2 separate regions of the Homo sapiens genome follow, and region 1 is linked to region 2. The links come from fine-mapping of genetic effects on gene expression. A gene starts in region 2. The other region holds a variant in brackets. All regions are shown on one strand. Distances are from middle to middle.

Region 1 (5,387 bases), 30 kb after region 2:
TGCTTCCACAGAGTGAATTTAGGTCCCTCTTAGCATTGGCATGTTGATGTAAACCCCACGACAGGAATCCAGCGTAAGCCATATGAGGTGACCACAGAACTGCAGATCAGGACCACACTGGCTTCGCACTCAATTGTGCAGCTCACCCACACCTTTTCAACCTCCAGGATGCCCTGACCACCAAGAAATACTTTACTGCCCCTATGGTTTTTCTTACCACAGTCTGTGCACAGTTACCTGGTCACTGCAGTATTTGTAGGCCTTTTCCTCCCATGTTGCTGAGAGTCCTGGTTTTATTCATCACGCTGGGTGGGGCTCAATTCCTTATTCCTGAGGCCACTGCAATGAGGCAGCGGGATGCATCTCCTCATGACAGGGGTTTGCAGACCCTTCCCCAGAGGAGAATGGGATCCCTGATGAGCCCCCAAATTGTTAGAAACAAATGCTTGATGCCACAAAGAAGAACCAGCACTCAGGCAAAAAGTTGTCTCAGAATGGCAATTTACTTCTGCAGAACAGTGCTACCTGCATCAGCCACGATTGCAAGAGCACACCAAACAAAGGAGAAAAGGGGTTTTTATCCCTAATTCCTGTTTCTGTGTCCTTTCCCCATTGGCTGCAGTTGGACCTCACAATCTAAGCTATCCAGATTGGCTAAGACTTAAACTTCTCCAAATAGGGTAAAAGACTTAAACTTTTCCAAATGGAGTAAATGCACAATTTGCAAAGGGAGGAGGGGAGGGAGAGACTGTTATTAACTAGGCAGGAGGGAAGGCATGTCTAGGCATATCTGGGTGCAGCAAGGAGGGAAGGGTTGGTCACAGAACAGAGAGAAAAAGGAAGTTTGAAACTTCTTCCAAATAAGGTAGTGAGATGAGGACTTTGAAGGCCAAAGCAGGGAGAAGGGCTAATTTACAATCTTACAACTTATAACAAGAAAGTTAAGTTTTGAAGAGGAACTTAGTTGTTCTAACACCAATATCTAGTCCCATATCTGCTTCTGTTATGCGTATATAAGGTATCCAAGTTATCAGCAGTGAATCTGTACAGGTTTGCAGCAACCTCAATTCTTGCCTCCTCAGAAAAAAGAATTTTGAGGGTCATGAGGCAGAAAAAGAGACCAAGGCAAGTCTCAGAACAGGAGTGGAAGTTTATTAAAAAGCTTTAGAGCAGGCACCAGGTACAGTGGCTCACACCTGTAATCCCAGCATTTTGGGAGGCTGAGGTGGGTGGATCAGCTGATGTCAGAAGTTCGAGATGAGCCTGACCAACAAAGTGAAACCCCGTCTCTACTAAAAATAGAAAAATTAGCCAGGCATGGTGGTAGGCACCTGTAGTCCCAGCTACTTGGGAGGCTGCGACTGAAGAATAGCTTGAAACCAGGAAGCGGTAGTTATAATGAGCGAGGTCATGCCATTGCACTCCAGCCTGGGTTACAGAGAGAGACTCCATCTCAAAAAAAAAAAAAAAAAAAAAAAAAAAAAAAAAAAAAAATAGCCTTAGAGCAGGAAAGAAAGGAAAGTACACTTGGAAGAGACCCAAGCAGGCGACTTGAAGGACAAGTGCCCCACTTAATCTTGATCCTGGGACTTTATAAGATGGCCCACTTCCAGGGTCTTGCACCCCTTTCCCATGATTCTTCCCTTAGGGTGGGCTGCCTGAATGCACAGTGCCCTCCTTACCCTTAGGAAGTGAGCATGCGCAGTGTGTTTAAGAAGTTGTACGCATGCCCATCTGAGGCTTTCTTCAGTTTTCTGACAGAATGCCTCTGGAAGGTCATACTCCACCACTTTGTTTTTTAATGAACATGCCCAGGCTCACTTGCTCATTTCCTGTGATTTTACTGGAAACTGATTACCAATCTCAAGTATTTTCATCTGTTTGGGAAGTTGCCTCTCTTAGGTACCTGAATTCAATTAACACTTTAGTGTGGCAGCTTGGACCATCGGGAGATTGTCTCTCCCTGGCACTGATGGCCAAGTTATCATTTTTAGAGGGGCAGTGTGGTAACTGCCCAACCATCACTTGACTATAGTCAGACATTCCTGGTGGGTAGGTGGTAGGGCCCCCTCCTGCCCCACTCATGCCTGTCTAACTACCTGTAATGTTTCCCCCCACTCAAGAGCCCAAGACCCCAAATCTTTGGAGGAAAATGGATGAAGGTCAGTCTTTTGTAACTGCTTTCTGCTGACAGAGGGGTGGTGGTGGTGGTTCTGTGGGTCTTGGCCTCTTGCTGTCAGGGCAGGAGGGTGACTCAGTGGCTTAGCAAAAGTGGTATCCAGCCAGGTCCAGGGGCAGAATTTTGCCTACTTTCTGTCCACTGATGAGCAGTCTAGCGGTTCCCTGTAGAAGGGTACCTCTTGAATATTGAGAGGACAGTATACCTCACGGAGGACCATCTGGAGCTTGATGGCCTGGGGGTGAGAGGAGACAAATTGGGTTTAGAATTTAGAAGACCTGAACCAAAAAGGTGCAAAACTAGGAGAATAACAAGTGGTCCTAAAAAGGAAAGAACCCAGGAGAACCATTTCCAG[G/T]CTCCTTCCCTATCTAACCAACCCTGAGAGGCAAGTTCCCATAATAAATGGAGGCTTGATTTGGAAGTCGTGTGATGTTGTCCTGTACTTTTCACAGTTGGTTTACCCAAAAGCAATACTTTTCATCTAAGGCTGAACAAAGTCTTCCTTGTGCTGCCATTAGCATATCTAGTCCTCAACAATTCTGGAGGGAATGCAAATTAATACAACCACTCTGAAAAACAGTATGGAAGTTCCTCAAAATACTAAAAATATAACTACCATGAGATTTAGTAATCCCACTACTAGGTATTTATTCAAAAGAAAGGAATCAATATGTCAAAGAGATATCTGTATTCCTATATTTAGTACTAGACACAATAGCCAAAACATGGAATCAATGTAAGTGCTATTAATATCTGAATGGATAAAGAAAAATATGATACACATGGAATATTAGTCATAAGAAAGAATGAAATCCTGTCACTTGCAGCAACGTGGATGAAACTGTAGGTCATTAAGTTAAGTGAAACAAGCCAGGTACAGAAAGACAATTATTGTATTTCTCACTCATGTGGATGCTAAGTACAGCTCATGAAAATAGAGAGCAGATTGGTGGTTATTGGGGGCTGGGAAGGGAGGCAGGGAGGATAAGAGATTAATTGAGTATAAAAATACAGCTAGATATAAAAAATAACAAGATGTAGTGTTCAAGAAATCAGTAGGGACTATAGAAAACAATCTACTGTATATATCAAAATAGCTAGAAGAGAATAATTTTAATGTTCCTAGCATAAAAGAAACATTTAAGGTCATGGATATTCCAATTATCCTGATTTGATCATTATCTATTATATGAATATATCAGAATATCACATATACTCCAAAAATATATATATCTAGCATGTAGCAATTTTTTATGTAATACATTATTTCTCTGGGGTATTTGTTTTTGTGTCAAAGGGAATTATAAGAGCAGAGGTGGAATATAAGGGGAAGTAAAACTCTAGGTTCTTGCTATACTCTTCCCTCCTGGACAGCTTCCAACCTTCTACACCCCACCTGAAATAGGCTTGGAAATTATCTTTCAAGGCTAAATAATATAGACAGGTAAATAGAGAAAGATACAGTGATAGCAAAAGAGATATATAATTTCTAAGCAATAATATCTGAGGAAACAAGTGGGTCAGAAGATAACAGCAGAACAATGTATTTATACAGGGCTTGTGTGAAAAGCTTAGCTGTGTTGTCAGGATTAATAGAGAATTATATAGTAGGTAAGTTCACATGAGACAGGAAAAGAGAAACATAATATTCTTGCCTCCTATCTGCTTGGTCTTGCTCTTCTTTTATTATGCTGGGCCTTGGGATGGAAATTTCAGAGAACAGAATCTATCATAATTATCATTTCCTTCTCTGTCTTAGGACAAATACACAAGTCTGACACCCCTAATTTAGTATATGTGTCCCCATCCCCTATCACAGATTTGGTGGAATTAGTAAATAAATGAGCCATTCTCATTCTTGAAAACATAAGATACATCTATGTGCAAAGAAAGAGTTGCATGAAACATAAAGCCAGAGGACATGTCTTATTCAAAGTACTTAATAAAAGGAATTGGACATAAGGATGGATTGGTAAATATAAGCAAAAGAATACACATACTGGCTTAGGTGAAAAAATGATTTTCTAGCAAGCATAGGTGTCTTACTCAGAACCTGCAGCCCTGGAATGTTTCAAACTTCCTAACACTGAGTGTTTCATCAGAAGCTGGACACCACCAGTCAGAATGAATGAAGGATTCCTATGTCAGATATACTGTTGGCCCTCACCCAGGTCCTGAGTAGATAGTTCACCAAATTCCCAATGACTAAGAAAAGAAACTCAGATTTTCAAAGTCTTCTCTTCAGCAAATGAAGTTGGAAGCATCTTTGTGTCTTTCGGTGAAGTCACCTGGAGACCCATGGGTCAAGTCTCTGTCAAGTTACTGATAGGGGTGAGGGCACTGTGAGAAGACAGCACAGTCAGCACATTCAATCCACAGGCTACCAGAGGACACAGACCCATGAGTCCTGAACAGACTGGTGGCTCTGAGTTTCAGGACATCATTTTTTTTTTTTCCAAGAAAAAACTAAACATGAAGATCCTGGCAGCCGTGCACATTCTACCATAGCCTGTCTCCAACTCCAGCAGACAAGCCAACCCATTCTTTCTCCACCTCACCCTCTACATATCCTTTCTTGGGAATACTCCCAAGATGCTCTCACGGATTTGCTTGGTCTTGACACCATAGATTATGGGATTGACCATGGGTGGGAAGAGCAGATAGAAATTGGCAAGGAGGATGTGGACATGAGGGGCAGCATGGCGGGCTACACGGTGCATGACTGAAGAGATGACCACAGTTGTGTAGAAGGCTAAGATGGCACCTATATGAGAGACACATGTCCCAAATGCCTTGTAGCGGGCCTCCTGAGAGGCAAGCAGTAGAACTGCCTGAAGAATAAAGATATAAGACAGGATAACAAGGAGCAGGTCCAACACCACAATAAACATGGCCACAGCGATGCCATAGATATTGTTGAAGCTAGTGTCCCCACACGCCAGCCTCACCACAGCCATGTGTTCACAGTAGCAGTGAGCGATCACTGGGCCTCGGCAGTAGTGGAAACATCTCAGCAGGAAGGGGAGTGGAGTCATTAGTGTCACAGCCCGGGCCACAGCAGCCATGCCAATCTTGGTGATGAGGGACCCAGTCAGGACCTTGGTGTAGTGCAGTGGCTTGCAGATAGCCACATAGCGGTCAAAGGCCATGGCCAGCAGCACTGCTGACTCCATGATGGAGAAGGAGTGAAGGAAGAACATCTGGGCCA
Region 2 (5,387 bases):
GTGTTTTAGAACAGAAGTATCATGTCTTTAGCTGAAGCAAATTATCCAGTAGTAGGGGAAAAGTTGAAACTTAGACGAAGAAAGAGAATACTGCTCCTGAAAAGACCGTGAATATTGCATCTTTCTAGGTGGTCTGCTGGTTGATCATTGAGAATATAAACATATCCTGAAACAAACACAAATTTACATACCTTACATTCCTTGTAAGCTCCAGACTAGGATATCCAACTCCATACTCGATATCCCCACATATCTTCCTCACAGATATGTCAAACCTGCCATGCCTGAGGCAGAAATCATGACTACTTCTCTTCTTGTGCTGCCCATATCTCAGAACGTAACATCCTGCCCAACCAGTTGCTCAACCTAGAATCAAGTCATCCTGGATTCTTCTCTTTTCTTCCTGCATCATATTTAATCATCAGCAAGCACACTGGATCATCCTACATAGTAAATCTCCACGTTGCCCATTGCGTTTCCAACACTTCCACCCTTCCAACACCATCACCCTTGTTCAAGCCACAGCATCTCCCAGCAACTACTGCTACAAAAGAATCCTAACAAGTACACAAAGTTCCACTTTGTTCTCCAATATTTATCCTTCAACAATTACCCACCATATCATGAAGTGAAGGGACTGGAGTTAAGAAACTCTACCTATTTTCCTTCTGTAAACCCAGCCTCTAACATACATAGGTGTGGAACATTTCACTAAATAAAACAGACTACTAGATTATTGGAAGACATATTTCTCAGAATACTACTCCCCTCATGTGATTTAAGCTCAGAATTTGGGTTATCTTCTCATTTAAAATGCATCCAGAATGGAGGTTCTAAGCATCCCGATTACAATACTTTGTTACCTGCATCAGAATAAAATTCTCTTCTTAATGGAAAATACTATTTTAAATATTCATAATGTTTGTGCATTTTTGTCAGGAACAAGCTCTTATGACAACAGACATTTTTATTTTCAAGTACATATCAGTACCTAGAAACATGCCTGGCGTCTAAGAAACTCTTCTAAAATACTGTGAAATAATCCCACAAACCTGCTGCATCTTTACCTTATCTCAATATGTATTTTCCACAAAACCCACATGTTTTACTTTGAGTCTCCATGTCCCCCTAGATTCCTCCATTCAACTTTTAAACATCACTAACCACCCTGTGAGCTGTCTACCCATCTTCATACAAGAAAAAAAGGCATCTCTTCTATCAGATTTCTTCCTGAAAAGACAGGGTGTCTAATAGTTCATAAATCTTACTTCCTTTGAAGTTCATCTAAAATCAACTCCTCAGAATGAAGTGCTCTGAGTAGGAGTGTGAATGGAGCCAGTCTTCTTCCCCTAATATCCAGAAACTAAGACCTCCTCTGTAGTGCAAGTTTTGTCCAGACTGTTCATTGTTTTCAGAACTAAGATGTCCATGCTCAAAGGATTTATCTTCTATTTCTCCTTAAAAAAGGCCTCTGTACCCAGAATGGACTCAATTAATACTGAATCTATTTGGTTGCCTATACCTTTATCTTAAAAGGATATCAGAATGACATATCTGAAAAACTTAGAACCAGACAAGGAAGGATAATCACATAATCAAGATACTTCAGGACTGCTTCTGGTAGAAGAACCTCAAAGATAAGGTATTTCTTACCTTTCCCTGCCATCTTTCTAGTTCAGGCCTCGTTTTCTTCCTCTTGACTAATGCAGAAGCCCTTTAACTGGGATGGGGCATTTGCCAGGGGTTAGAAAAAGCAATGACAGGAGGTGAGAAGTGACAGATCCAAACTGGAATAATCAACTAAGACTTCTTGGAGATGGCCCACAGTGTTTGGCATAGGACGGAAGCAGGCATCCTCTGTGGTGGGGAGAGCATCTGGAGTTTGTGTACCAAACAGTTGGGTGGGACTATCGAGACTTCTGTTCCCTCTATTGAAGGACCAGAGTAGAAGCAATAACAGGGTTGGAGAGCTGATGCCTAAGATCAGGAATGGCTATGGGAAGAAATTGACAGTGCCCCCACCTTCCAGCTCACTCCCACCTTCCTGCTCACCCCAATAACATCACTTGTTTTCTATTTCCCTAAGTTGCAGCTGTATCCACAGTCCTCAGTCTGACTTACAATCCTGGGCCCTTTTCATTAGCTTCATGCAGCACCAGTGCCGCCTTCCTCTTTCAGTCTAAGGAGTCTTAGAAGGAGGAAGCTGGGAAGCGAGCAGCTGGCTTTAATCCTCACCAACCTCTGCCCTTCTCCCAGAAGGCTGTGGAAGCAGAAACTGCTGCACTTGAGCAGAGTCCTCAGAGACATCTCTGGCCTCCTCTCTCTGGGTTGATGCAAGGGGACTTCCCCTGACCCAAGGGGACTGTATCCTTGTTTCCTACAACCCATGCCTCCTCCCCAGCTAGTGGCACTGAGTTGTGCCTACCAGGGGTCATGCCCTACTTGCCAGAGGCTGTGAGACTTTCAGGTGGAGCTGGCTTGTGTCTTGGTGTTTGCTGTGCCTCTCCTTACTCTTTATCCTTACAGTGTCTTCAAAGAAAGCCAGCCTCATCAGAAAATATACACTGCAGGCAACTCCTGTCAGAACTGACTTGAAAGGGCAGGGAGTCCAGCCTGACCAGGCCAAGGTCATCCATTAGGCATTTTATTTTGCATTCATATTTCATATTGGCCTGAGATATGCATTAATAACCAGCTCGTGAACTTGATCTGGCACCTGTCTGATCCCTGATCTATTTTTCTTATCTCTAAGGTAGAGATAACTTTTACAATATTTTCTAACTCACAAGGATAGGAGGATCTAAGTAGATAAACAAGAGGCCACTATGAATGTGATTCCTTATTAATAATTAGGAAATTACCAATCATCTATAAATGATAAAGAGTGATCTTTCTACCTACAGCTGACTTAATGTGTGCTATTTTTCAAGGACCTGAGAAGATGCTTTTCACTAGAGTTCTCCATGGATTTTGTCTACCCTAATTCCCCATAATTTTTAAAAGCAATCTCAGAACGCTGTAACTCAGTCATCTCACTCCCTTCCCACACAGGTACCCTGGAACTAACTTCCCCTTCTGTAATAGTTGGCCCTCAAGGGTGTGGACTCAGCACTCCTCCATGATAAGTCTGATCTTTTGGGATGCTGGGATAAAGTGGAATTCCTACATAGTTTTAACAATGTACAGCTAGGCCAAGGGGATACAGCCTGTATGAAAAGCACCTCACCAAAACCTAATATGGCAAAAGCCAGATAAAAGCCAGACAAGAGCCAGATAGAATAGACAGTGTTTTTGTGAACAAAGCACCTTAATTTGCCCCCAACTCCATTCTGAATGGGCAATCCTGACATCATAGGAGCAGGATAAGAAGCACATGGAGTGGGGGAGTGGGCAGTGGGGCCATTGGCTCAAACCATGCTGGAGATAACTGCTGGAATATTGGAACACTTAGACTGTTTAATTCATTGACATCCTCCCCACCCTATCTTTTCTTTTGTAAAATCTAGATTCTTTTACATTCATATGCATCTTTGTTTTGGTGTTCTTCATTCCCTCCAGGTTTTTCATGTTTCCATCTGGATCATTTTTTTTCTGCATGAAAAACTACTTTTATTTTTGCTTTTATTACAGGCCATATAGTGACACATTCCATCAACTTTTGCTCATTTGTAAAATTATCTTAGTCATCTTTGTTTGTGAAAGATGACTCACCTCCCGGGCCTCTGTCTAAAATTCTATTTCAATTTGAATAGGTTTTTAAATGGGCAATTCTTCTTTCATCCACTTTAGTATATTAATTGTATTCTGCCTTCACTTGCTTTTTTTGAAGTCAAGTATCTATTAATATCAGTCTTATTGTTGATCCTGTGAATATAATGTGCCCTACCCATACCTGGGTGCTGCTTTCTTTTTTTTTTTTTCCAGTTAGCTGTGATCACACAGAACATTGTAGGCCTTTGTATCAGTCTGTTCTCACACTGCTATGAAGAACTACCTGAGACTGGGTACTTTTATGGAGAAAAGAGGTTTGACTGACTCACAGTTCCTGCAGGCTGTACAGAAGCATGGCTGGGAGGCCTCAGGAAACTTAGTCATGGCAGAAGATGAAGGGGAAGCAAGCAGGTCTTACCACAGCGGAGCAGGAAAAAGGGAATGGGGGCGGGGCCATACGCTTTTAAACAGAACATCAAGGGGGAAATCTGCCCCCATGATCCTATCACCTCTCACCAGGTCCCCTCTTCTGACATGTGGGGATTACAATTCGAGAGGAGATTTGGGTGTGGACACAGAGCCAAACCATATCAGCCATGTAAGGATTTCACTTTGCAAAGGTTCATAATTTCTCTCGGAATAAAAGCCAAGGTTGAGCAGTGAATTGACATTATTTGACATATGTTTTTTAGATATTGCTTCTGACTTAATGGGAACAGCACAAGATGATGAGGATGAAAGCAGAGAAAGGATTACAGATGCTATTGTAGGCATCCAGAGAGAAGATGGTGTTTCCAAATCAATGTGTTAATCATATATATGGAGAGAAATCAGATGTATCAGATTTTATATCTATTTTTTAAGTGCCAGTGGGAATTCCTGAAAAATTAGCTCCAGGCTGTGAGAGAAAAAGAAATCAAAGATAACACCAAGACTCCTTGCTTGAGGAACACGTAGGTGGGAAGGTGTTGTGAGGGTTGCTAGGCAGAACAGGATCCTATACTCAAGCATTGATCCTACTTTAAGGATGATGTGCACCTCTGTGTCCTAGCTTGGAATGTTGGGATGACCTAGTTTTTGAGTGATTAGAAGTATTGCATCTAGGCCTAGATAACTGCATCAAGTTTCCTTTATCCTAATCTATATACCCATCTATATGGGTATAAAATTATATGTGCCTGTAGGCTACTCATATTTCTTATTCATGTTTTGATTGTGTGCTAAACTCAAATGAGCTCATAGAGAAGGTAATTTTCCTTTTACTATTTGTGACTAATCCTGGCTGTGCTAATGTTATGTTGATATATTACCTGTCTATGGGATCCTTATACTACTGGACTTGTTCTGGGAACAAAATTATTTCTTCACTGGGGATAGATATGACCTTAAGGATGATGTTATTCCCCGTATAAGTCAATGGGAAAATAAGATTTCTCTTGTTGGAAATACCTTTTAAAATTCATGCTCTTTTCCATGTTTGTTTATATGTGGTTACAACTTAGTGTTTATTTTTTAGCTGCCCACCTGCCCCAACTATTCTCAGACAAAATAATCAAGAGGTGTTGACTACATGAGGCATTTGTCTTTGTGTCTGAGGGATTCATGGGAGCAGTGATGGAATATAAGGGGAAGCAAGAGTGTAGGTTCTTGCAATACTCTTGTCTCCTGCACAGCTT

The links. PIP is the estimated chance that this variant, and not a neighbour inherited with it, causes the effect. A credible set is the group of variants that fine-mapping cannot tell apart.
Region 1: its variant is the best candidate, but not a certain one, in a credible set for the expression of OR52K1 in whole blood (TOPMed, PIP 0.62).

What each region holds. Positions count from the first base shown.
Region 1 is chr11:4,449,638-4,455,024 of GRCh38, reverse strand. OR52K2 (olfactory receptor family 52 subfamily K member 2) reads right to left here. Exons shown (of 1, transcript NM_001005172.2): 1 at 4,664-5,387. The coding sequence ends at 4,741. Among named protein-coding and RNA genes, the nearest start is that of OR52K2, 3.0 kb to the right of the region's middle. The variant G/T (reference allele first, on the strand shown) is at 2,535.
Region 2 is chr11:4,479,443-4,484,829 of GRCh38, reverse strand. It overlaps OR52K1 (olfactory receptor family 52 subfamily K member 1), which reads right to left and starts at 2,184. Exons shown (of 2, transcript NM_001005171.3): 1 at 1,654-2,184.